Regions from separate parts of the Homo sapiens genome. Here all the other regions are linked to region 1. The links come from fine-mapping of genetic effects on gene expression. A gene starts in region 1. Each other region holds a variant in brackets. All regions are shown on one strand. Distances are from middle to middle. Region 1 holds the start of DNAJC17 (DnaJ heat shock protein family (Hsp40) member C17). Region 2 has its middle 26 kb from the start of CCDC32. Region 3 overlaps RMDN3 (regulator of microtubule dynamics 3).

The links.
Region 2: its variant is fine-mapped to the expression of DNAJC17 in unexposed skin (GTEx, PIP 0.93).
Region 3: its variant is fine-mapped to the expression of DNAJC17 in whole blood (TOPMed, PIP above 0.99). The same link has a PIP of 0.9 or more in cerebellum and tibial artery.

What each region holds. Positions count from the first base shown.
Region 1 is chr15:40,804,164-40,812,335 of GRCh38, reverse strand. It overlaps DNAJC17 (DnaJ heat shock protein family (Hsp40) member C17), which reads left to right and starts at 4,863. Exons shown (of 11, transcript NM_018163.3): 1 at 4,863-4,967. The coding sequence starts at 4,890. It overlaps ZFYVE19 (zinc finger FYVE-type containing 19), which reads right to left and starts at 5,247. Exons shown (of 11, transcript NM_001077268.2): 1 at 4,468-5,247; 2 at 3,096-3,217; 3 at 2,878-2,928; 4 at 2,366-2,484; 5 at 2,120-2,265; 6 at 1,579-1,687. The coding sequence starts at 4,746. RefSeq lists enhancers at 4,215-4,264, 4,895-4,944, 4,985-5,034, 5,495-5,584.
Region 2 is chr15:40,535,418-40,543,594 of GRCh38, reverse strand. It overlaps a transcript of CCDC32 not described here. Among named protein-coding and RNA genes, the nearest start is that of CCDC32, 26 kb to the left of the region's middle. The variant C/T (reference allele first, on the strand shown) is at 3,416.
Region 3 is chr15:40,735,086-40,743,262 of GRCh38, reverse strand. RMDN3 (regulator of microtubule dynamics 3) reads left to right here. Exons shown (of 13, transcript NM_018145.3): 7 at 3,070-3,130; 8 at 4,687-4,762; 9 at 5,221-5,298; 10 at 5,537-5,635; 11 at 5,922-5,975; 12 at 6,059-6,139; 13 at 6,669-7,376. The coding sequence ends at 6,722. Among named protein-coding and RNA genes, the nearest start is that of RMDN3, 16 kb to the left of the region's middle. RefSeq lists an enhancer at 1,862-2,734. The variant GA/A (reference allele first, on the strand shown) is at 3,963.

The DNA.
Region 1 (8,172 bases):
GACCTCGTGATCCACCCGCCTCAGCCTCCCAAAGTGCTGGGATTACAGGCGTGAGCCATCATGCCCAGCTTTTCTCAACCCTTTCTAATCACAGATCATCAGCTTTTTGCTCAGCACTAGCGCCTATGGTTTCTATCACAAATAAAATTAGTATTCCTCCATTTTTCCAAATGTAAAAAACTAATAATTTTACCCATGTCTTTTCCAACCACATCCATCCCCATCTACCTGATATTTTAACATTCTGCCCTAAGGGTGGGCGTCCTATGGTTTGAGAATCACTGCCCTAAAGGATCAAGACATGATAAGGCCCAGGTTCAGCCGATCTCTTTGCCTTTCAGGGCAGGAATTAGCATCTCCTGGGATTAGCACAGAGAGGGCAATGAAGGAAGCTAAGAGCTTGTATATCACTGGGCAGGAAGAATTTTACCAGATTAGGTGTGGCTCTGACACAGTCACCTTCAGTTTAGTGTTTCAGAGCAAGAGGTTTAAAATCACAGCTTTAGGTTTAAGTCTCATCTCTGCAGCTTAATAGCTGTGTGACCTTGGTCAAGTTCCTCAAGCTCACCAGGCCTGTTTCCTCATTTATAAAAAAGAATAGTATGTACCTTATAAGATTTTTTTTTTAAACAGAGTCTTGCTATGTTGCCCAGGCAGGTCTTAAATTCCCCAGCTCAAGCTATCCTCCCTCCTGCCTCTGCCTCCTTAAGTGCTTAGGATTACAGGCGTGAGCCACACCTGGCCTCATAAGATTATTGAGGATATTCAATGAGATTGTGCCTCTAAAGCAGGACTTCTCAATCTTAGTTCTCTTGACACTTTGGACCGGGTAATTCTTCATCATGATGTGCTGTCCTGTGACATAGTAGATTTAGTAGCATCCCTGGCTTCTATCCTGTAGGTGCCAGTAATATCCTCTGGGTTGTGACAACCAAAAAGTCTCTAAATGTTGCCACAAGTAGCCTGGGGGCAAAATCATCCTTTGTTGAAAACCACTGCTCTGAAGCCTTCAAACAGCACTGTCCAACAGAATGTTCTATGATGATGGAAACATTCCATATCATGTTCTATATCTGTGCTGTCCAAGATGGTAGCCATGAAGCCCATATGGCTACTGAGCATTGAGATGTGGCTGGTTTTACTAAATAGCTTCTTCCTCCTTATCAACATCATGATTGCAGAGAATATTCACTGAGTACTCACTATGAGTCAGGTATGTTCCCAAGCACTTATTGGATTATCTCGTTTACTCCTCCTGATTTCCCTGTGAGGTAGGTTTTTCCATACATACCTTCATTTTACACATGAGGAAAGTGAGACTTAGGTCAAGTAACTTGTCCAGCATCACACAGCTAATACGTGGTAGAAATGGGAATCACTGTCTGATTCTAAAGCCCGTGCACTTAAACACTAGGCTTACACTGGCTCCCTTTGGAGTAAGCACTCAATGAATGGTAACTCTTATAACGTTGATCACTCTCCGATTTATATTCATCTCCCAGAGGGTGGACAGCAGAGCCTCTCCAGTCTGGGGAAAGAGGTAGGGCAGATTCCTAGGGAGCCAAGTGGAGGGGTTACCTGGGCCTCCTCCTTTCCAGCTTTCATCGATAGCCACCTCAGCTGCCAGCTGCGTTAGCAGATCCTGTGTCTGCTGGGCTTGGGTCCTGGTGTCCGGTGTGTGATGTGCCTGCACAGACGAGGAAACCTCAGTGGAGAGCAGGGGTAGCCCAGAAGCAGTCTAGGTCAGGGATGGATGCTAAGTAGTTCTCAAAGCCCAGGGAAAGGAGAGGGATCCAGGGCCCACATAATCAAGTAGGTCTGGCCGTCCCCAACAGGACTGAGGGGCCACTTTTTCCTGCCCTACCCTATCGTGCTGTTTGTCCCTGGTCCCCGGGTCTGGTAGCAGGCCTGAGGATCAGGAGGTAGGGGTGGGAGGCTTTGCCAACTCCTGCAAAGTACATAAAGTACAAAGGTTGGTGCAAAAGTAACTGAGGTTTTTGCAATTAAAAGTAATGACAAAAACCACAATTACTTTTGTATCACCCCAATACCTGTATCTGGGCTTCTGCTGGGTCCTCCCGCTAGCACCCCCGCTTCTCTCCTAAGCCATAACACTCACCGGCTGGGGGGTTTGAGAAGGTAGAACTCTGCCCTGCAACGCTGCAAGTCGTGCCTCCATTTCCTGGGTGGAAGGGATGGAACCCTGACGTTCATCCTTTAGGGCAGCCAGCCGTGCCTCTATCTCTGCCTGTGAGGGGACTAACTCTGCAATTGGCATGGGGGGAGCCTTGTAAGGGCCAGAGGCATCTCAGTCCCAGAAGCCCTGGACTGTGTCCTCTAGGCAACCCCATCTGCCCCTGCTCACTGGGCTTGTTCTCCTGGCGGAGTCGTGCTAGGCGCTCAGCAATCATCTGGTCTTGTCGTGTCAGTCCCTGGCTCTGGGAAGTGCTGGGCTTTTGCTTGGCTTCCAAGGCTGCCACACGCCTGGCAGGATATGAGATAGAGGCTCTTGAAGAAGGCAGAGGGGAAGAGTGAAGGCACCCACTCACTGTTTCCCATTCAAATCAAATCATTTCTGGGCACTTAGGGAGGCCTCCAATGGGCAATCTGCTGTGCCCCTCACTCATGTCACCCTGCAGCCCAACCTGGCTGACCAGCCAGACGGTCCAGCTGAAAGGACAAGCTCTACCAAGTGCCTGTCCTGGAGAGAGGGCTGAAGAGCTGCTTTACCAGCCCAAGAGGGCAGTCAGGAGCCAGAGAGGAGAGAATTCTCCTGATTCTGTGCTCATTTTATCTAGAAGATGGGGGCAGGGTCTTTCCCTATGGCTCCCTTATCCTTTCCCCAATGCTCTTTGTCTTTTTCTCTTCAGCACTTACTTCTTATAGTTCTGAGGTGGTGACCACTTGGAGGCATTGGCAGAAGACCCTCTACAGAGAAGAAATCTAGTGTTATAAATCCTGCCATCCCACCAGGCAGTGCCCCCCACTCCAAACACTTCCTCGGCTGACTCTCGCGACAGAGTACAAAGCTGTGAGGGCTGGCCAGATGCCCACTGCCATACTTGGCTGAACTTTCACCCATGCCTGCCTCTTACCTGGTCAGGACCTCATGGCATTGCTTGCAGACTTTCTGTTGGGTGTTCCCAGTCCGAGGCACTGCTGCACTGAAGCTTAGGCAGCCTGAACAGAAGGCCCTGCCACAATTCTTACAGCCGTACTACAAGAAACATGAAGCGGGAGATCCCCCTCTCACCCGCCCCTGCAGGCTGCTCCCAGGGACTCTCCAAGCACACACAGAGAGAAGTCACTGAAGTTATGACCAGCTGCTGGGAGGAAGAAGAGGAGTGGGGCCCCTAAGGCCTAGGGATGGTGAGTAAAGCAATTCCTCGGTTTCCAGTACCTTATTCAAGCCAAATGAAGGTTTATACAAAATTCCCATGCTTTCTACCCTGTCTTCAATTCCCTGACCCAGGGATGTAGAAGACAGATAGATAAAGCCCAGTATTTCAGGCCACTGACTCTTCCACAAAGGAGAATCAGAGAGACAGGGCAGAGCCGATGCCTCCTCTGCTCTTGCAGAGATGGAGGGAGGCTTGGCTCAGGATGGGCTAACAATAGCCTCCATTTATTAAGCACTTACTATGTGCCAGGCACTAAACCCAGTACTTAACATTCATCATGTGATTTATTCCTTACAATTTACACACATTATTTTACTTAATCTTGATGCCAACCGTGATTATCCTTATTTTGAGAGGGCCAGAGAGGTTACATAACTTATCCAAACCAAGGTCACCGCCTCAATAAGACAGCAGAGCTCAGATTTGAACGCTGACTCCAAAATCCAGGTTGGTGAATGCTGCACGGTCCTGCCTTCCTGCGTGACACTAATTTACTCCATCTAGTTCCCATCATCTCCTGGTCAGAATCCCTGGCCACAACTGAGGCAGAGGGAACCTGCAGTTTACCAGAGGAATCTGGCAGGTCTGTGATAGGGACAGGACAGTCAGCCTTCACCATGGTGCCCCGGAAGCAGGAGGAAGTGTGGTAATCTAACTCCAGCGACCTGGAGAAGGGCAGGCTGCGGGATGGGGAAGATTTCAGAGCAGAGGGAGTAACGGGCTTGGTGTGATGGACACCGCGCTTCGGAGGAGCAGGGTGGAGAGAAGAAAACCGCCAGATGCTACACTGGGCCGACAGAAAAGAGTAGCTTTGCAAAAACGACGGCAGCGCGCTTTACAGTTTATAGGGAACTCTCACCTAAAGCACTTCAGTGGACCCTCACATAAACCCTGAAAGCGAGAGAATGTTAGCCCCATTTTACAGAAATGGAAACTGAGGATCAATGACTTCATCAAAACCACACAGCTGGAAAGGAGCCGTAAGACCAAGTCTTTGGACGTTAAGTCCCGCGCTTTTCCCTCCTCTCCTCCCTGGCCCTGCAGCCCTCGGGGAGGGAAGACTCGCCTCCTTCTTGAAGAGGGTGAACTTGACAGCGCAGCCGTAGCACCTACTCTCCATGGTGGCTCCCAGCACCGCAGGGTCTGCAGAGCTGAGATCACGCCGGCCAAGTCCTGGGCCCCTTGGACCCTCACCCCAGCTCCGCCCTTCCCTTCCCTGCCCTGCCCCGCCCCACACGCCCACTGGCACTGTCCCGCCGCGACCTAGAGCAGGGAATCCGGACGCTCTCCTGCAGCCAGCGTACGGCAGCGGCGGCAACGGGGGCTGCTGGGAGTCGTAGTTCATTCACGACTGCCGGCCTCCCTCAGAGTCAGTCAAGCCTGACCCAGAACACAATTCCCAGAGGGCTAGGCGCCGCTCGGAGCCTGCAGTCCTCACGCGCGCTTAGACTCTTGGGAGTTGTAGTACGAATCCGTCAGGCCGGAACCATGGCAGTGACCAAGGAGCTCTTACAGATGGACCTGTACGCGCTGCTAGGCATTGAGGAGAAGGCAGCGGACAAAGAGGTGAGAACGGTGGCGAGGAAGGCTGATCTTGAGAGGTCTGGCGGTCCTTCCTGTCCTAGCGCCTCGGCCACTGCTGGCATCCGCTCTCCAGGTTCATTCGGGTCCTGGGCGGGGAGCGAGGGTCGGCGCTATGCCCTCCGCAGGCGGGCTCCCAGACATTTCCTGGACGGTCCGAGGGCCTCAAGAGGAAGCGGGGTACAGAGGGCTCTTCGCGCCGGGTGGCTGTGCTCTCCCCGTGGCCCCTGTCTCCTAGAGGCCGCGGGGCGAGGCAGCAAGGAACGCTAGCCTCCTCTGCGCCTGCGCAGTCTCGGCCTCCGTTTCCGCTTCTGCCTTGACTGTGACAAGAGGTGCCTCATTTCAGTCTCTTCTGCAGGCTGATTTAATTCTTCCACTAAGAGCCTAGAACGAAAGAAAAGTAAGATCTCAAAGCCTCTCCACTCCCTTTTCATGCCCCCTTGCCAATGTGACCGATGACCCTGCTGTCTCTATTTTCTTTTCCACTCAAGCCCATTGACTCTTTTCAAGTAGCTGATGCCCTTCTCAGCATGTGCTAGTTAGTGGGCTAAAAGCAGGAGGATCAGAAGGTTAAGGCAGATGGTATAGAGGTCCATGCTACCTTAGGTGGTGATAAAGATGCCAGGGAGTGAAACACTGATCAAGCTGGATTTAGGATTTCTTTTATCTCCCCCTGGATCATGGTGGTAGTTTTAACAATATACGAAGGAGAGGCGTTCATCAAATGAAAATTAGTGCCCAACTGAGCCGAGATCGCGCCACTGCACTCCATCCTGGGCGACAGAGCAAGACTCTTTCTCAAAAAAAGAAAGAAAGAAAGAAAATTAGTGTCTACTAGGCCGGGCGCGGTGGCTCACGCCTGTAATCTCAGCACTTTGGGAGGCCGAGGCGGGCGGATCATGTGGTCAGAAGTTCGAGACCAGCCTGACCAATATGCTGAAACCCCTTCTCTACTAAAAATACAAAAATTAGCCGGGCGTGGTGGCACACACCTGTAGTCCCAGCTACTTGGGAGGCTGAGGCAGGAGAATCACTGGAACCCGGGAGGCGGAGGTTGCAGTGAGCTGAGATTGCACCACTGCACTCCAGTCTGGGCGACAGAGCGAGACTGTCTCAAAAAAAAAAAAAAAAAAGGAAAAAAAAATAGTGCCCACTAATGTCCCAGTACTTCTGGGCTGCCCTGCTCATGGGGTGAGTGAGCTTTTGAGAAGAGGAAGCTCTGGGGCAGAAAATCAGAGAGACCCAGAGGGCCCTTGAGAAATGCTGTCAACCTGCACAAATCTGTCCCCTGCAGCCGCAGCTGAAATCAGAAATGGCCATGGGATGTCTATGAAGCATCAAAAGCATCTGCTCCACCTCTCTCGTGTTTCAATATTTTAGGATTAATAATTCCTAACATCTGTATAATGCTTACTATGTCCTAGACAGTATTTTTTTTTTCTGGATAGTATTCTAAGTGCTCTATGTTTACAAATTATTATTTTTTAAATTCTTTATTATTATTATTTTTTATTATTGTTTTTGAGACGGAGTCTCGCTCTGTGGCCCAGGCTGGAGTGCAGTGGCGCGATCTCGGCTTACTGCAACCTCCGCCTCTCGGGTTCACGCCATTCTCCTGCCTGAGCCTCTCCAAGTAGCTGGGACTACAGGCGCCTGCCACCATGCCCGGCTAATAATTTTTATTTTTAGTAGAGACGGGGTTTCACCGTGGTCTCGATCTCCTGACCTCGTGATCTGCCCACCTCAGCCTCCCAAAGTGCTGGGATTACAAGCGTGAGCCACCGTGCCCGGCCTATTATTATTTTTTGAGACGGAGTCTCGCTCTGTCGCCCAGGCTGGAGTGCAGTGGCGCAATCTCAGCTTACTGCAACTTCTGCCTCCCAGGTTCAAGCGATTCTCCTGCCTCAGCCTCCGGAGTAGCTGGGACTACAGGCATGTACCACCACGCCCGGCTAATTTTTTTTTTTTTTTTTTTTTTGAGACAGAGTATCACTCTTTGGCCCAGGCTGGAGTGCAGTGGCATGATCTCGGCTCACTGCAACCTCCGCCTTCCTGTTTCAAGTGATTCTCCTGCCTCAGCCTCCCAAGTAGCTGGGATTACAGGCACCCGCCACCACGCCCAGCTAATTTTTGTATTTTTAGTAGAGACGGGGTCTCACCGTGTTGGCCAGGCCAGTCTTGGATTCCTGACCTCGTGATCTTCCCACCTCGGCCTCCCAAAGTGCTGGGATTACAGGTGTGAGCCACTATGCCCTGCCTGCAAATTATTTAATTAGTACTTTATTAATAGTGAGAAACTATTTGAGACATTTCACAAAAGATCCAAGTGGGAAATCTGGAGGGTTTTTTTTTGAGACGGAGTCTCACTCTCTTGCCTAGGCTGGAGTGCAGTGGTGCAACCTTGGCTCACTGCAACCTCTGCCCCCCAGGTTCAGGGAATTCTCCTGCCTCAGCCTCCTGAGCAGCTGGGATTACAGGCATGTGCCACCACACCCAGCTAATTTTTGTGTTTTTATCAGAGACAGGGTTTCACCATGTTGGTCAGGCTGGTCTTGAACTCCTGACCTCAAGTGATCTGCCGGCCTTGGCCTCCCAAAGTGCTGGGATTACAGGCGTGAGCCACCGCGCCCGGCTGAAATCTAGAGTTTCTAACCCTGAAGTTGAGAACTCCTGAGGAAGTCAGTTGGAAGTCATTCTCTATTAATTAGAGAAGTTACATAATCAGATTTTATTTTTTTTTTATTTTTATGTCTATTTTTTGAGAAAAGATCTCACTGTCATTCAGGCTGGAATGCAGTGGCACAATCACAGCTCACTGCAGCCTCGACTTCCTGGGCTCAAGTGATCCCACCTCAGCCTCTCATGTAGTTGGGACTGCAGGTGTGCATCATCATGCCTGGCTAATTTGTTTTGTGTTTGTTTTTGCTTTTTTTTTTTTTCCAGAGACGGGGTCCAGCTATATTGCCCAGGCTGGTGTCGAACTCCTGGGTTCAAGCTATCCTCCTGCCTGGTCTCCCAGAGTGCTGGGATTGCAGGCATGAGCCACTGTGCCCTGCCCATAATTGGATTTTAAAGAAAGTATTTGACTGAGTGTGATGGCTCACACCTGCAATCCCAGCACTTTGGGAGGCCAAGGTGGAAGGAACGCTTGAGGCCAGGAGTTTGAGACCAGCCTGGGAAACGTAGTGAG
Region 2 (8,177 bases), 270 kb after region 1:
TACTCCCAGCTACTTAGGAGGCTGAGGCAGAAGAATCTCTTGAACCTGGGAGGCAGAGGTTGCAGTGAGCCAAGATCATGCCACTGCATTCCAGCCTGGGCGACAGAGTGGGACTCTGTCTCAAAAAAACAACAACAACAACAACAAAAACAAAACAGAGAGAGAGGCTGACGAATCTAGTTTCTCAGAGATAAATGCTTAATAGAAACTTATGCACAGAAGCCATACCTTGGTTGGTCACGAGATGGTGGTTTCCATGCCCGCCCTCCAGAAAGTATCCTTTGTATAACAAGTTTTTAGGGGAAAACATGTGCAGCTGGTCACACCTCAGACTTTATTGCAAGTTTCATGACCACTGGGGAGGTTAGATAAGCATCTTTATGAGGGGTTATTTATGCTACAGGCATTCTTTCTTTTCTTTTTTCTCTTTCTTTTCCATTTTGTTTTTTTTTTTAGACAGAGTCTGGCTCTGTCACCCAGGCTAGAGTGTAGTGGCATTATCACAGCTTATTGCAGCCTCAACCTCCCGGGCTCAAGCTGTCCTCCCTCCTCAGCCTCCTGAGTTTGCTGTGACTATACCCCTGGCTAATTTTTTTTTTTTTTTAAGAAAAGTCTCAGTATGTTGCCCAGGCTGGTCTCATACTCCTGGGCTCAAACAATCCTCCTACCTTGGCCTTCCAAAGTGTTGGGATTATAGGCATGAGCCACCCCACCTGGCCAGGCATCTTTTTTTTTTTTTTCTTTTGAGACAAAGTCTCGCTCTGTCCCCCAGGCTGGAGTGCAGTGGCAACCTCTGCTCCCGGGTTCACACCATTCTCCTGCCTCAACCTCCTGAGTAGCTGGGACTACAGGTGCCTGCCACCATGCCCGGCTAATTTTTTGTATTTTTTAGTAGAGACGGGGTTTCACCGTATTAGCCAGGATGGTCTCAATCTCCTGACCTCGTGATCCTCCCGCCTCAGCCTCCCAAAGTGCTGGGATTACAGGCATGAGCCACTGCGCCCGGCCCAGGCATTGTTTCTTGACCTTGCCACAGGAATGCCTTGGTATGCAGGAGTCAAACATCAGTCATTATGGCAGTTTTGCTTCAAGGTGGTGCCATTCTTGCAACAGGGTCTTTTCCTACAGAGGAACATCGACAAACTGCAATGCTCCCTAGAGGAGGGGTCCAGGGTGAGCAGGCTCAGATCGAGTTATTTGAAGACAGGACAAGACAATAAGATTGTTTTCCATAGAAAAGAGATTTAAGAGAGACCCGGTTGGCTTTAAAATATTTGAAGGAGTATTGGGTAGAAAGCTGAGACACACTGAAGTACAAAGGACAAACTAGGACCAATGGCAGGGAGTTTCAGGAAGACCAATTACCATTCAGTGTTAAGAACTTTCTAATAGCTGTTCAACAATAGGGTGGCCTTGTAGAAGATAGTAATTCCCTGTCACTGGAGGTGTGTCAGCAGATGTCAGAAAGGTTGTAAAGGGGATTCCTGCATTGTGTAGAAAGTTGGATCAGGTCACCCCTAAGGTCCTTTCCAATTATGAAAATCTGTGGTTGGCTACTGGAGACCTATGGGGGCTTGCTGCTGTTAAGTCAGCCCTGGTCTCCCCAGCATTTGGGAGGGAGAGCTGGTGAGTTCTTCTTTCTCCTCCCTAGATAATAATGACAAACACCTGATCACCTACCAGTCAGTGGTCAGAGGCAGAGCCCTCCAACAGTTCTTATCTTAGCTCAACCCTGAGGGACAGACTCTTGGGTTGGAAGATCACAAAAAGGTCGCTCTTGTGCTGTTTTATGTTCTCTGAACGTGTACCTTGAGACAAGGACCTGTATGTAGGTGGCTGATTTTAGGGGGTGAGCAGGAGTGAGGGAGGGAGGAGAATGAGACAGCTCCCTGTGTTGAGTAGGTCCACTGTGGGTAGTTAGGGCTGTCGCCCTGGGATCACTCTGAGGAGACATAAAGATTATGGCTTAGGCTAAGCGCGGTGGCCTGTAATCCCAACACTGTGGGAGGCTGAGGCGGGTGGATCACCTGAGGTCAGGAGTTCGAGACCAGCCTGGCCAACATGGCAAAACCATGTCTCTACTAAAAATACAAAAATTAGCCGGGTTGGTGGTGTGTGCCCATAGTCCCAGCTACTTGGGAGGATGAGACAGGAGAATTGCTTGAACCCGGGAGGCGGAGGTTGCAGTGAGCCGAGATGGAGCCACTGCACTCCAGCCTGGGTGACAGAGCGAGACTCCGTCTCAAAAAAAAAAAAAAAAATATTACAGCTCAGAATTTTGCCACTGACTGACGGGGCACATCTGGGCTGCAGTTCCACCAGTGCCCATCCTTCATTGGTTGAGGTTTGCTCTTTGGAGGTATTAAGCCCCTGCCACTTTCAGGCAGCCCTGCAGGGGCTAAGAAAAGCCTCACGCAGAGGAGAGAGGAGGGAAACTGAGCATGTACCAGAAGCATCCGCTGCAGCTGCGGCTGGTCACAGAAATGGGCTGGAGGGATGTGAGGCAGCGCGTGAGCATCTGGCACAGTCTCTTTCCCGCCCAGGCCAGGATCCGCCTTCCAGGGCTGTGCGGGACCTTTGGTTTTGACATTTTGGTCTCTGTGGCCCAGTGTGGGAAGTGGTTCTCCCCGGGGGTGAGTTCAGCCCAGCCTAGTCTGAATGTCCACACACTGCTCTCTTGGGTTCAAGTCTTCCTTCTTGGCCCAGCTTCTCACTGGGCTCTCTGGACTGAGGGCACCAGGGCAATGGACGCTCCAGGCTGGCACCTGTTCAACACTCATATGTGAGCTTGGAACATGGTGACATTAGGGGCACTGACTCTACTGTCCTTTCACACTGTGGTCAAGGTTAGGATAGATGAGAGACTGGCCCGGCCCCAGAGTTTCCTGTATTGACAGCCTAATCATTTTCTAAGAAGAAAATGCTGGGCTGGGTGCAGTGGCTCACACCTGTAATCCCAGCACTTTGGGAGGCCAAGGCAGGCAGATCACCTGAGGCCAGGAGTTGGAGACCAGCCTGGCCAGCATGGTGAAACCCTGTTTCTACTAAAAATACAAAAAATTACCCAGGCATGGTGGCAGGCGCCTGTAATCCCAGCTACTCGGGAGGCTGAAGAAGGAGAATAGCTTGAACCCAGGAGGCGGAGGTTGCAGTGAGCCGATATCACGCCATTGCTCTCCAGCCTGCACAACAGAGCGAGACGCCACCTCAAAAAAAAAAAAAAAGAAAAAGAAAAAGAAAAAAATGCTAAGAAGAACGACAAAGAATTCAAAGACCCTGAGAAGCCTCCCTCAAAGCCTTGGAGACACTTCAAAGATGGGAAATCATGGCACTGATGTTAGAGGCAGTGTTCCCTGCCAGGCACTAAAGGCCAATCCAGTTGGCCCAGCCCTCCTGTTACCACTCCTCTGGATTG[C/T]CCTAGTCAGAGCTCTGAGCCTGTCTCTCTCTTCCCTGATCCCTTCTCCCACCCTCTGGGCCCCACACTCTTGTCTGGTACTCACTGTTCAGTCTGTCTTTTCCCTCCTCTTGCCCATTCATTACCTCCAGGGGCATCATCATCTCTGAGGTTCACACTTATTCCCTAGATTTTGCCGCAATTTGAAAATCAACCCTTCACACTGTTCCAATGCCCATTTCACCACCTGGGCGAAGTGAGGCTGAGTAGGTATTTATGATGAGTTTGGGGTGACATGGAATCAAGGGCAAGGAGCGGGGTGTGTGTGTGTGTGTGTGTGTGTGTGTGTGTGTGTGTGTGGCAACAGTTTGATCACTCTTATTAGGGGAGGGCCCCTCTTAAGGTGGCAAATGTTGTCCAGCCAGAGGAACAGCCTGGCCAACAAATCAACTCAGACAGACCCTGCCTGACATCTCAGAGAGCAGGAGGCCAAGAGAGACCTATTGGGCAAGGAAATTTCCTGGGATGGGAGCAGGGGCAGCGGAGAGCTGACTGCCTTGGTCTCTGCTTTTCCTCTCTTCCTCTGCCTGGCCTCTTGCTGTGGTGCCACGGGCCCCCGTGTCCCCTGTGCCTCCGTTTGTCTCTTGTCTCTGTCTCAGGCTCCACTTTGCTTTATTTTTCCTGCAGTCCTGCACGGCTGAGGCTGTGTCGACACCTCACTTCCTCGCACCTTCGCACTCTCGGTGCTCCTATGTATGCCTGTCTCTCTTTGACTCTGTTAGTGTGTGCCTCTGACTGTATCTGTCTATCTTCCTCGTCTCTGTCGGTCTGTCTTATTCCCATAGGCCCTGTAACTCCAGAACCCCTGGCAGCAGCAGCTTTTCTGAGGATGGAGCGTGGGACAGCCACCAGTGTGCTGAGCAGAGGTGGCGAAGGACATTTCCAGCCCAGCAGTCGTCATGGTAACAGCCAGGGCGGGCCAGGCAGGGATGTGCAGAACCATGTGGGATTGACCTTTCTGTGGTGTCAGGTTTGAGCGGGAGCTGGGGAGAAACAGCAACAACTACTTCCCTCTGGCCCAGCCCTCAGGGCTTCTGGGCTGGGCTGAATGAAGAAAGGGAGAAGCTGAGAAGTGGGACAGCTGGCGAGAGAGCCAAGAGAGAGACAGGGCTTTAGTCAGAGCCAGCTAGAGAACCCATGGGAAGAGGGACAGGCTGGTCACCAGCAGGCTCCTGCGGTGAGCCCACCTGTGGCAAGCACTAGACCTCAGGCCCCCAGTTGGCAGCGCTCATGGGTGGGTACTAAAGGTCAGTTCCCTATACTCAGAGCTCCCCCAGACTCCTTCAGATCAAATGTCACCTTTTCCATATTGCAAAAGCCTTTATTGCTCTAAGGAAAACATGCTAAATTAAAAAGAACCAAATTATTCTTTTAAAAATAGAAATATTTTAAATGGAAAAGTTCAAAGAAAATAAAAGGCTTTCCAATCCTCCCTCTGCTTCTCCCAGCTCTAAAATTCCTCCACAGTTGCTTCCCATGCCTGCCAGGTTGGAGGAAAGGGACAGGCCTGGGCCCAGCGGCCTCTTCTCTGACAAGGGCACAGAAAGGGAAGCCGGATTGGTCGTTGCCTGAATTTGAGGGGGGCTTGGACTCACAGGCTTCCCGCTAATTCGAACCAGTGAAGGAGACTCATTTCCCTCTATGCCCCCTCTTTCTCCTATTGGGGCGGACATACAGGCAGCAGAAAGAGGTGCCCACAGGTGCCCTGTGACCCCTTGAGGGAGAGGCGAGGGGTGCAGGGCAGCCTCAGGTGAGCTCCATGGAGAACATAGCTTACCAGTGGATCCCATTTCCAGACTTTCAAATCATGGCCATGCAAGAGATCTCGAGCTTTCTGGGACACACTGCTATGGAAAACAAGACCATAGCCTCAGAATAAAAAATGTGGTCTTCTTATTTACTGAAAATCTACCTTCAGGAAAGACATGAAGGGGGCACTCACCAGCCAATAGGTGGGTAACTTAACACAGCAGCACCACAGGCTTTCTTTTATACAGGAGTACAGTCCCCAAATCCCCTTGGAGAACTGCCTCTGGGCCACTTGTACAGGGGAAGGGGACACTTGGCAGGAGAGGGGACCGCAGACCTTGTAGTCATAAGTTAGCATGCTGCTAAAAGACTATTTGAAATGAGTGCTGATTACATATATTTAAAAGTGGTCAGCATTACTGAAGCTCCAGCTTTTTTTTCTGAGGCGGAGTCTTACTCTATCACCCAGGCTGGAATGCAGTGGCACCATCTCGGCTCACTGCAACCTCCACCTCCCAGGTTCAAGCAATTCTCCTGCCTCAGCCTCCCCAGTAGCTGAGATTACAGGTGCCCACTGCCATGCCTGGCTAATTTTTCTATTTTTAGTAGAGACGGGGTTTCACCATGTTGGCCAGGTTGGTCTTGAACTCCTGACCTCAAGTGATCCGCCCACCTCAGCCTCCCAAAGTGCTGGGATTACAGGCATGAGCCAACGCGTCTGGCCAAGAGCCAGCATTTTTGAGACTCGAACCTTTCTCTGACTGACATGTATTGTGGAGCTCAAAATAAACATTCTGTATTTTGGGAGTTGGTCATCACTCTCTAGTTATGCTCCTGTAGAGCTATTACTGAACCTCTGGCCTCTTCCCTGGGTTCTGGAAACCTTCATGTACCCGTGGCCCCCAGAGCAAGGGGTAGGAGACAGGAAGGCTGCTAGTGCCCCGATGGTCCCACACGAGGCTGGGACCTTGGGACACAGGCACTGCATCATTCACTGTTCCCTGCATGGGCTTCAGGAGTGGATGAGAGCCCAGGGCCAAGCCCCTTCCTCTTTCGTTCTGCCCAAGCCCCTTCCCTCCAGCTGCCTTCCCTCCTTGAGTCCCTTGATTCCTCTGTGATCCCCCCTCCAGCTCAGCACCTGGGGCTGGCACCACTCCCCAGGGATACTGATAAAGTCACAGAGCATCTGCCCAGCGCCTGAGGTGGTGTAAGTTGGGGAAGGTGGGTCATCCTGTTAGTTGCTCCTGCCAGGCCTGGAGCCCCTGGTGGTCCTTTAGAATTCTAGATTCTCTTGGTTCCTTTCTCCAGAATCCTTCCCTTCTCGCTCCACTCATGCTCTGGGCCAGGCCCACCACGTCTCCTGGCAGCTGACTATCTCATGCCACCTGCCTTTGTTCTCTATTCCCTTTGCCAAAACCATATTTTCTGGTGAATCCCTCTTCTACTTCAAGGTTCAGTTCAAGTGCCACCATATAAGTGAAGCTGTCCTCAGTCGACCCTAGGTGACTCTGTGGCCCCATGGAACTTTTTCTCATCACCATCGTAGCAGTCATGACTCTGTTTTGACCTCCACTTCTCCACTGGAGAGTGTGTTCCGTGGAATGAACTGGCTTGTAGTGTGACCTGTGAACCTCCAGAGCTTGGCTCTGTGTTGCTCATTGAGTACTTGTTCTTGCAGTGGGCCCTTGCCAAGAGAGGCCCCTGTTCTGGGATGTGAGCCAGAGAAGGTCCGAGACTCATAATTTCATGTGTCATACTCGTCCTCCACCCAGCTCCCCCTGGCCAGATCACAGCCCCCTCCTGCTGCAGGGCCTGTAGTGCCAGGCTGGTTGCAAGACAGGGGTCCTCACCTCTGAGAAAATCATGGCTTGGCCCATTGGCACCCCACCTGGGATGCAGAATGGAGCAGCAACAGCTGGCTGGTGTCTGAACGCTATTTCCCCAGCCCTGGGCAGCCATCTCCTGTAGCTGTTCCCTCATCCCATGGCTTTACCAACCCCTCCTTGCTGCACTGGAGAGCCTGAGAGCAAGTAGGTTCAGAGTGGGAAGACAGGGCTAAAGGCATCTTCCCGGTCTTCTCTCCTTCCCCTTCCTCCCAGCAGTTGCAGCTGTGCTGCGTGATGATGTGGAACAGAGCACAGTCTTAATTACTGCTCAGCCCTGCTCATTAGTGCTTCTGGAAGCCCAAGAAGCCAGAGTTAGGAAGCCTCAATCACAGTGGAGACCCAGGCTGCAGGCCTCCTGGGTGATCGCTAGTCCTGTGTCTCCTGGTGACTTGGGACCCCTTTGGGGGACTCCAGCAAAAGACACTCCCTCCAACCCTGAGACTGGGGAAGGGCTGAAGCTGGAGGGAGTCACTGCTGGATTAAGGGAGTCGCTGCTGGATTAACCTTCCTCATGGGCAGCTCTGATCAAATACCTATGTTTCTCTTGCTGACAGCATAGAGTCTGGAGTCCTTGGCTTAGCAGTCAAGCTCCTCCACAATTTGGTCCCACAGGACTTTCCCAACCTGATTTCCTCCTTCAATCCTGGCAGACAAGGAGGGAAGGCAAAGGCTAGGCCCCCTCATGGGCTCTCACTAGTGTGTGCAGAGCATTTCAGGGACAGCATATGGTGGAACGTGTGAAACTCCACTGCAATCAGAGAAAGATGAACGAATGATTAAATAAACCACATGTGCTCAAATCCCGCACACTGATGACTTCCCTGCTTTTGGAGAGACTTAGCAAGGAGCCTGGTGTGTTGTTCAGCATGCACTATTTTTTTTCTTTTTTTTTTTTGGTTGTGAAAAGGAATAAAGAACCATGAAGTGCCTGAAGACTGAACGAAAGGAAGCTGAGTGGAGGAGGAGAGAAGGGGCGGGCCCTGAAAACTATAAATCTATAGGCCCAATTTCAATATGTGGAAAAACTCCTTCAAAATATAAATTTGTAAACACCCTAGATCAAATGAGAGAATGCTCATGAAAGCACT
Region 3 (8,177 bases), 69 kb after region 1:
TTTTAGCAGAGATGGGGTTTCGCCATGTTGGCTAGGCTGGTCTTGAACTCCTGGCCTCAACTGATTCACCCACCTAGGCCTCCCAAAGTGCTGGGATAACAGGCATAAACCACTGTGCCTGGCCAGTTAACTGTCTAAAATGGATTTGTCTACCTTTCTATTGTAAGTACAGCCTTACAAATATTATTGAATCCTTGATAATGTATACTCAAACAGTACCTCAAAGTTAACATTCTAAACATTTGTAGAATTCTGTCAATGGAGAAAGAACAGACCAATTGAGTAGGATGTCTCTGTAGACCCTCAGAAAAATTCCTGGAAGTTTTAACAAAAGATGCTTATTTATGATTACTTTTTCTCTCCAAAAGTTTGTTTTCCCTCCTAAATTTCAGATGAGGATTCTCAGCTTTTGGGCTGATTTTTGGACTCTTCATGTCAACAACCTTTCCTTTCCCTCTTGATCATTGGTCATCTCTTATTAGTGCTAGTAGCCAGCATGAACCCCAAAGACAGAAGTGGAGGCAGTGGTTAGCAGGGCAGCACTTGGTTGGTCTGGCCTCCTGAGCTTAGCACCCATGGACAAAGCTTTACCTGCTGGAGGTCAGATGACTATGGAATGTCTTTGAAGGTTCTGCTCTGAGATCACAGCCTTTAAGAATTATCCTTACTGGGTATAAAGTTTATTTCATTGTATCTCTAGGAGCTGGACCACCAGGAGGCAGTCATTCTGTGGGGTCTCAGGCAATGTCTTGTCTACAACACTGTCTGTCTAGCTTGGCAGGAACTAGTTGTCTCATTCTTTGCTATTATTTTCCTAGTGAGACAGTACTTTGAAGAGGGCAGAGAGAAATCCCCAAAGAGGCAGCGTCCCTCATTGGTGGGGCCATGTGGTCCCTCTCTTTGGGAAGAGAGGTAGAGTCTTTCACAGCATCAGTTGTCTTAAGAATGCATTTGTGGCCAGGTGTGGTGGCTCATGCCTATAATCCTAGCACTTTGGGAGGCCAAGGCAGGAGGATTGCTTGAGCCCAGGAGTTAGAGACTAGCCTGGGCAATATAGTGAGACCTTGTCTCTACAAAAAAAAAAAAAAAAACTTAAAAAATTAGCCAGGCATGGTGGTGGAACATGCCAGCAGGAGGATTGTTTCAGCCCAGGAGGCAGAGGTTGTAGTGAACTGAGATTGCACCACTGCACTCCAGCCTGGGCAACAGAGAGAGACCCTGTCTCAAATAAAAAAAGGAAAACATTTCAGATTAGCCAGTTTACCACCTCAATGCATTACATTTGTTCCATTTTCTCCATGTTCCCTTCCAAACTTGTTTTCTTCAAAGAATTCTTGGCTGGGCACGGTGGTTCGCACCTGTAATCACAGCACTTTGGGAGGCTGAGGTGGGCGCATCACCTGAGGTCAGGAGTTTGAGACCAGCCTGGCCAACAAGGCAAAACTGTCTCTACTAAAAATACAAAAATTAGCCAGGTGTGGTGGCACACACCTGTAATCCCAGCTACTCGGGAGGCTGACGCAGGAGAATCACTTGAACCTGGAGGCGGAGGTTGCGGTGAGCCTAGATCGTGCTATTGCACTCCAGCCTGGACGACAGAGTGAGACTCTTGTCTCAAAAAAAAAAAAAAAAAAAAAAAAAATCCTATGTTGCAGTGTCTTCTCCAGTGCATAGGCATGATGGTCCTTATCTGGTGGTCCGTAAGCTCCAGCCTCGATACTCTTAAGTGACGCTTGTCAGAACTTTCATGTTTATGGGCTTTCATTTCTTTGTTAGAACACTAACCTAGAAAACTCGGGTAAGACTAAGTGAACGTCATCTCTGGTCAGACCTCAGTCCATGTGGCTCTTGTGAAAGAGTTTTGGCCTAGAGCTAATTAATATTGTTGGATCGTGGATCCTTTTGAGAATTTTTTTTTTTAAAGAGATGGGGTCTGCCTATGTTGCCCAGATTGGTCTTGAACTCTTGGTCCCAAGCTATCCTCTCCTTGGCCTCTCAAAGTTCTAGGATTACAGGTGTGAGCCAATGTACCCATCCCCTTTAGGGAATTTTTTCAAAGCTGTGATCTCTCTCCCCACTTACTTAAATTTTATACAACTTGAGATTCATGGACACTGCCCCTCCAGAGTAAGGTCTGTTGGGGACAATTTCTGATTGTGTTGGATCCGTTGTTGTTGTTTTTTTTGAGGTGGAGTTCGTCGCCCAGGCTGGAGTGCAGTGGTGCAATCTTGGCTCGTTGCAACTTCTGCCTCCCAGGTTCAAGTGATTCTCCTGCCTCAGCCTCCTGGGGAGCTGGGACTACAGGATGTGCCAACATGCCTGGCTAATTTTATATTTTTAGTAGAGGCAGGGTTTCACCATGTTGCTCAGGCTTGTCTCAAACACTTGGCCTCAAGTGATCCACCCACCTCGGCCTTCCAAAGTGCTAGGATTACAGGCATAAGCCATCGTGCCTGGCTGGATCCTTTTATATTTTAAATGCTAAAATCTGCTTCAAGCACATCAGGTGGGCATTATAAAAAGAAGGTAACTGGGGTTTCTAATGACAGATGGGGAAGCCAAGGTGAAGCAGAAGTCATCCCTGAAGTCTTCCCTTAGAAGCCGTTTGCAGCCTTTTCTGAGACAGTCTTGCTCTGTCACCTAGTCTGGAGTGCAGTGGTGCAATCTCGGCTCACTGCAACCTCTGCCTCCTGGGTTCAAGCGATTCTCCTGCCTCAGCCTTTTGAGTAGCTGGGACTACAGGCGCCTGCCACCACGCCCAGCTAATTTTTGTATTTTTGGTAGAGATGGGGTTTCACTGTGTTGGCCAGGCTGGTCTCCGACTCCTGACCTCAGGCGCTCTACCCGCCTCAGCCTCCCAAAGTGCTGGGATTACACAGCACAGAGGCGTGAGCCACTGTGACTGGCTTCTTTGCGGCCTTTCATTCTGCTCAAGTTCACAACTATTTCCAAACAAGTCCAAGCTGGGTAGGGATTGGTGAGAGCTAAAGCAGTCATTCTTCCCACAAGCCTTCCTATGAAAGTGTGCATAAGAGCTATGTCAACTCTGGATCTACCTTCGTCCTACAGGAAAAGAAGAAGCAGAGGCTGCTCTGGAGAAGGGGGATGAGAGTGCTGACTGTCACCTGTGGTAATAACACCCTGCAGTGTTCTGGGAAGAGCCAGCAAGGGCCAAAGCAGAGGACAGCCCTTTCTTTTCTCTGCCTGGGCCACAGAGGCATTTTCCAAAGGATCCAGGAGAGGGAGTTCTGGCTTGTATCTCCACATGCCTCAGTCTACCCCTAGCCAGAGACAAGGGAAGTTTCTGGTAGGGGAGGTGGCTTAGGGATGAGGCAAGCGGGGAATACAAGCTTTTTTTCTGATGGGGCTTGGAGAAATGAGTAGCTTTGTTAAGAGTCATCCTAGCTACAAAACTGGAGTTCTTGGCTCTCAGGAGGCTGGGACAATCTGCAGCTCCCCTATCCTGCATAAGCTCTTCTTTCCCCTGCGTGTGATCCCTGGCTGCTGGTACTTTGGCTTCTTTGCTTGGTTCATGTGAGGAAAAGTAGATGTGAGCTCACCCCCCAGAAGTTTAGTGGTCAATTTATTAGGCTGCAAAAACATCAGCCCTTTTTGTGGTCTCATGTGAGGCAAAGTTCTGTCAGCTTACCTGGGCCACGGCTAACTCATATCCTGGGGTCTGGTTCCAGCACCTGAGTTTTAGTGAAAATGTTCCTTTCCTTTCCCACCGCCACCCTTGCTTTCCATGTCTCCACCCTCAGACTGTGAGCTAAGTGAGAGGCTGTGTTTCTCCATCTGTTGCTGAAACTTTTGTCTCTGCAAGGGTTCTTCTCAGAGGCCAGGTAACTGTTTCTTGGGTGTCACTGCTTCCCTGGGCTTCCAAGGATGAACAGCTATTCCTGAGGAACAGCTGTTTGGATTAAACATGGAAATGAGCCTCTAGAAGTATCTGATACCCCCCG[GA/A]TACTTAGCATATACATGAAAAAGCAACTTGGGCTGGTTACTCATCGAATGTCAACTGTGCTGCTAGGAACAATGCTGGGGGGATGGGGAAGTAAGACTTTGTTTCTGAAGACAGATGATGGGAAGCTGGCTGGCTGGTTCCCTTTGGGAGGGGGGATGTGGGGGAGAAGGCATATATAGGAGGTCTTTCTTCCTCTGGTTCTGTTGGTTTCCAAGTAACATCAGAAATTCCTAGAATATCCCCTCCCAATGTGACTATCCTAAGAAATTGCTTCCCAAGTCCCAGTGATACACCTGTATGCTTAAAGGCTAATGAGACCCACTTTTTTGTCTGCCCAGAAGATAAGTAGTATAGTCAGGTCTCATACTTTTATGCTGATTGTTTTCATGCTTTTCAAGTTTTTATTAATGCCTGTGGCTGTACTCCTTATGAGTGTAGGAGAGATTTACTGTGTAAGAGAGATTTACTGTGGTGAACCCAGCTTTTTTTATACCTAGAATACTTTGGAGACTTGTAAGCCTACCATTATCTACTAAAGAATACTAATTGGGGCCAGAGGTCCGTAAAGAATGGGGATTACGTACAGATGAAAATTAGGTATTTTCAGCTCTAGTTGAGGGTACAGGGATAGGGGACAATGCAACTAGGCTGTGGTTGGGGCATCCATTCCTTGCAGTGATGGTACTCAGCCCTTGTCCCTGAGCTTGCTGCTTCCCCCCTAGGTATGCGGTGCTTTGTGGTCAGCTGGCTGAGCATGAGAGCATCCAGAGGCGCATCCAGAGTGGCTTTAGCTTCAAGGTGAGGACAGGCTTTTCCTCCTTCCTTGTGCTGGCCTATCCCAGATTCCCCACTCCTTTCCAGCTCCCTGCCAAAAACTTTTCTACAGCCTCAGTGACTTGCCTTTCTTCTTTTTTTTTGAGACAGAGTCTCACTCTATCGCCCAAGCTGGAGTGCAGTGGTGTGATCTTGGCTCACTGCAACCTCCTGGGTTCAAGCGATTCTCCTGCCTCAGCCTCCCAAGTAGCTGGGATTACAGGCATGTACCACCATGCCCGGCTAATTTTTGTATCTTTAGCACAGATGGGGTTTCACCATGTTGGCCAGGACTGGTTTCGAACTCCTGACCTCAGGTGATCCACCTGCCTCAGCTTCCCAAAGTGCAGGGATTACAGGCATGAGCCACTGCATCCGGCCCTTGCCTCTCTTTTAGCAACTCTGGTGTCTGATGTTAGTTTATATTTACATTTTCCCCTTAGGAGCATGTGGACAAAGCCATTGCTCTCCAGCCAGAAAACCCCATGGCTCACTTTCTTCTTGGCAGGTGGTGCTATCAGGTAAGCTGCGTTTCAGTGCTTGACATAATGGTCCTAAATGCCTTCTGACACCGATTTCCTTGCCAGGAAGAACAAGATCCTCAGCCTTCTCTGGCTCAGGTGCCCTTTCTTCTGAATGCTCGTATTATTGGTGGTTCGACCCAGCCCCGTTTGACCCTATTTTCAATATATCCCCAAAGATTTAAAGAAAAAAAACCTTTTAAAACCTCTTATACACACCTTGATCTTTTTGTGGCAGGTCTCTCACCTGAGCTGGCTAGAAAAAAAAACTGCTACAGCCTTGCTTGAAAGCCCTCTCAGTGCCACTGTGGAAGATGCCCTCCAGAGCTTCCTAAAGGTATGAGAGGGGCAGGTGGCAGGCAAAAACACCAGGGTAACCTTGTTTTTTCCTAAGGACATTATTGAGACCCTTAATGGGAGGGGTTTTCCTAGTCGGGGGCAATTTTGTGTTTGCCTGTTCTATGGGAAAACCAGAATCACTTGCACAGCTTATCAAAAATATAGGTTTCTTCAGACCCACTGAATCAGCCACATGGTTGGGGACTAGAAATCTAGTTTAATAAACTTCAGCCTGATTAGAATATAGGAACCTCTTACTGAAATATCTTTGTCCCTTTTCCCAGGCTGAAGAACTACAGCCAGGATTTTCCAAAGCAGGAAGGGTATATATTTCCAAGGTAAACTCATTTGTCTACTTCAACATAGATCTGGGAACTCCTGAAAGTACACAGTATCAGGTTTCACTGTTGTCTCTTTTCAGTGCTACAGAGAACTAGGGAAAAACTCTGAAGCTAGATGGTGGATGAAGTTGGCCCTGGAGCTGCCAGATGTCACGAAGGAGGTAAGGCTTTTTAATACTGCCTGTTGGGCAGATCACCTGAAGTCGGGAGTTCGAGACAGCCTGACCAACATGGAGAAACCCCATCTCTACTAAAATTACAAAATTAGTTGGGCCTAGTGGCGCACGCCTATAATTCCAGCTACTCGGGAAGCTGAGGCTGGAGAATCGCTTGAATCCGGGAGGTGGAGGTTGCAGTGAGCTCAGATCGTGCCATTGCACTCCAGCCTCGGCAACAAGAGCAAAACTCCATCTCAAAAAAAAACCAAACAAAACTGCCTGTCATCACTGAATCATCATGTGACATTTTTAGAAAATAATCTTTCCTAGAGGTCTTATTTCCCTAGTAAAAAAGAGTCTACCTCTAGGGGAAGAGACAGATTTAATAGGCTCCAGGCTATCCTGGGGAAGTAGGAAAAAGACTGTAGCAGAGCTCAGGAAGGAAGCAAAGGGCCCCTCTTCTTAGGTTCCACTGGTTTGGGAAAATGCTGGTTTAAATTTTGAGCCCTAGATTTGTTCTTTGTCTCCCTAGGATTTGGCTATCCAGAAGGACCTGGAAGAACTGGAAGTCATTTTACGAGACTAACCACGTTTCACTGGCCTTCATGACTTGATGCCACTATTTAAGGTGGGGGGGCGGGGAGGCTTTTTTCCTTAGACCTTGCTGAGATCAGGAAACCACACAAATCTGTCTCCTGGGTCTGACTGCTACCCACTACCACTCCCCATTAGTTAATTTATTCTAACCTCTAACCTAATCTAGAATTGGGGCAGTACTCATGGCTTCCGTTTCTGTTGTTCTCTCCCTTGAGTAATCTCTTAAAAAAATCAAGATTCACACCTGCCCCAGGATTACACATGGGTAGAGCCTGCAAGACCTGAGACCTTCCAATTGCTGGTGAGGTGGATGAACTTCAAAGCTATAGGAACAAAGCACATAACTTGTCACTTTAATCTTTTTCACTGACTAATAGGACTCAGTACATATAGTCTTAAGATCATACCTTACCTACCAAGGTAAAAAGAGGGATCAGAGTGGCCCACAGACATTGCTTTCTTATCACCTATCATGTGAATTCTACCTGTATTCCTGGGCTGGACCACTTGATAACTTCCAGTGTCCTGGCAGCTTTTGGAATGACAGCAGTGGTATGGGGTTTATGATGCTATAAAACAATGTCTGAAAAGTTGCCTAGAATATATTTTGTTACAAACTTGAAATAAACCAAATTTGATGTTATCAGCTCTTTATTCTTACTTGACACCTCCATAATTGTTTCTACCTACAGAGGCTGTTGCAGGCAGGTTATGGTTAATGCTCTTTACAGTATATAAAATACAGGTATCGAGCTTATTTTTAGCCTAAACAAGGCCTATTGCAACTAAGCAGGTACTCCCTGCCTTTCTCATGTTCATTTTTAGGGCCACGAGCACAAACCCCTAAATCCACCTAGAAGAAAATTTAAGACTGAGATGCATAGGCCGAGCGTGGTAGCTCATGCTTGTTGCTTGTAATCCTAGCACTCTGGGAGGCCAAGGCGGGTGGATCACTTGAGGCCAAGGGTTTGAGACCAGCCTGGCCAACATGGTGAAACCCCCATCTCTACTAAAAATACAGACAGAAAAAATTAGCTCGGTATGGTGGCGCACGCCTGTAATCTCAGCTACTAGAGAGGCTACAGCAAGAGAATCACTTGAGCCTGGGAGGCAGGGGTTGCAGTGAGCTGAGATCACACCCTTGCGCTCTAGCCTGGGCAACAAGAGCAAACCTCTGTCTCAAAAAAAAGATTGAGATGCTTTCATATAAGAACCAACCCCTTAATCTAGAATGTCACTGTGTCTTTATTATACCAACCCAGATTTTTTTTTTTTTTGCTGGAGTCTCGCTTTGTCACCCAGGCTGGAGTGCAGTGGCGCGATCTTGGCTCATTGCAACCTCCACCTCCTTGATTCAAGCAATTCCCCTGCCTCAGCCTCCCAAGTAGCTGGGATTACAGGGGCATATCACCACGCCCAGCTAATTTTTTTTGTATTTTTAGTA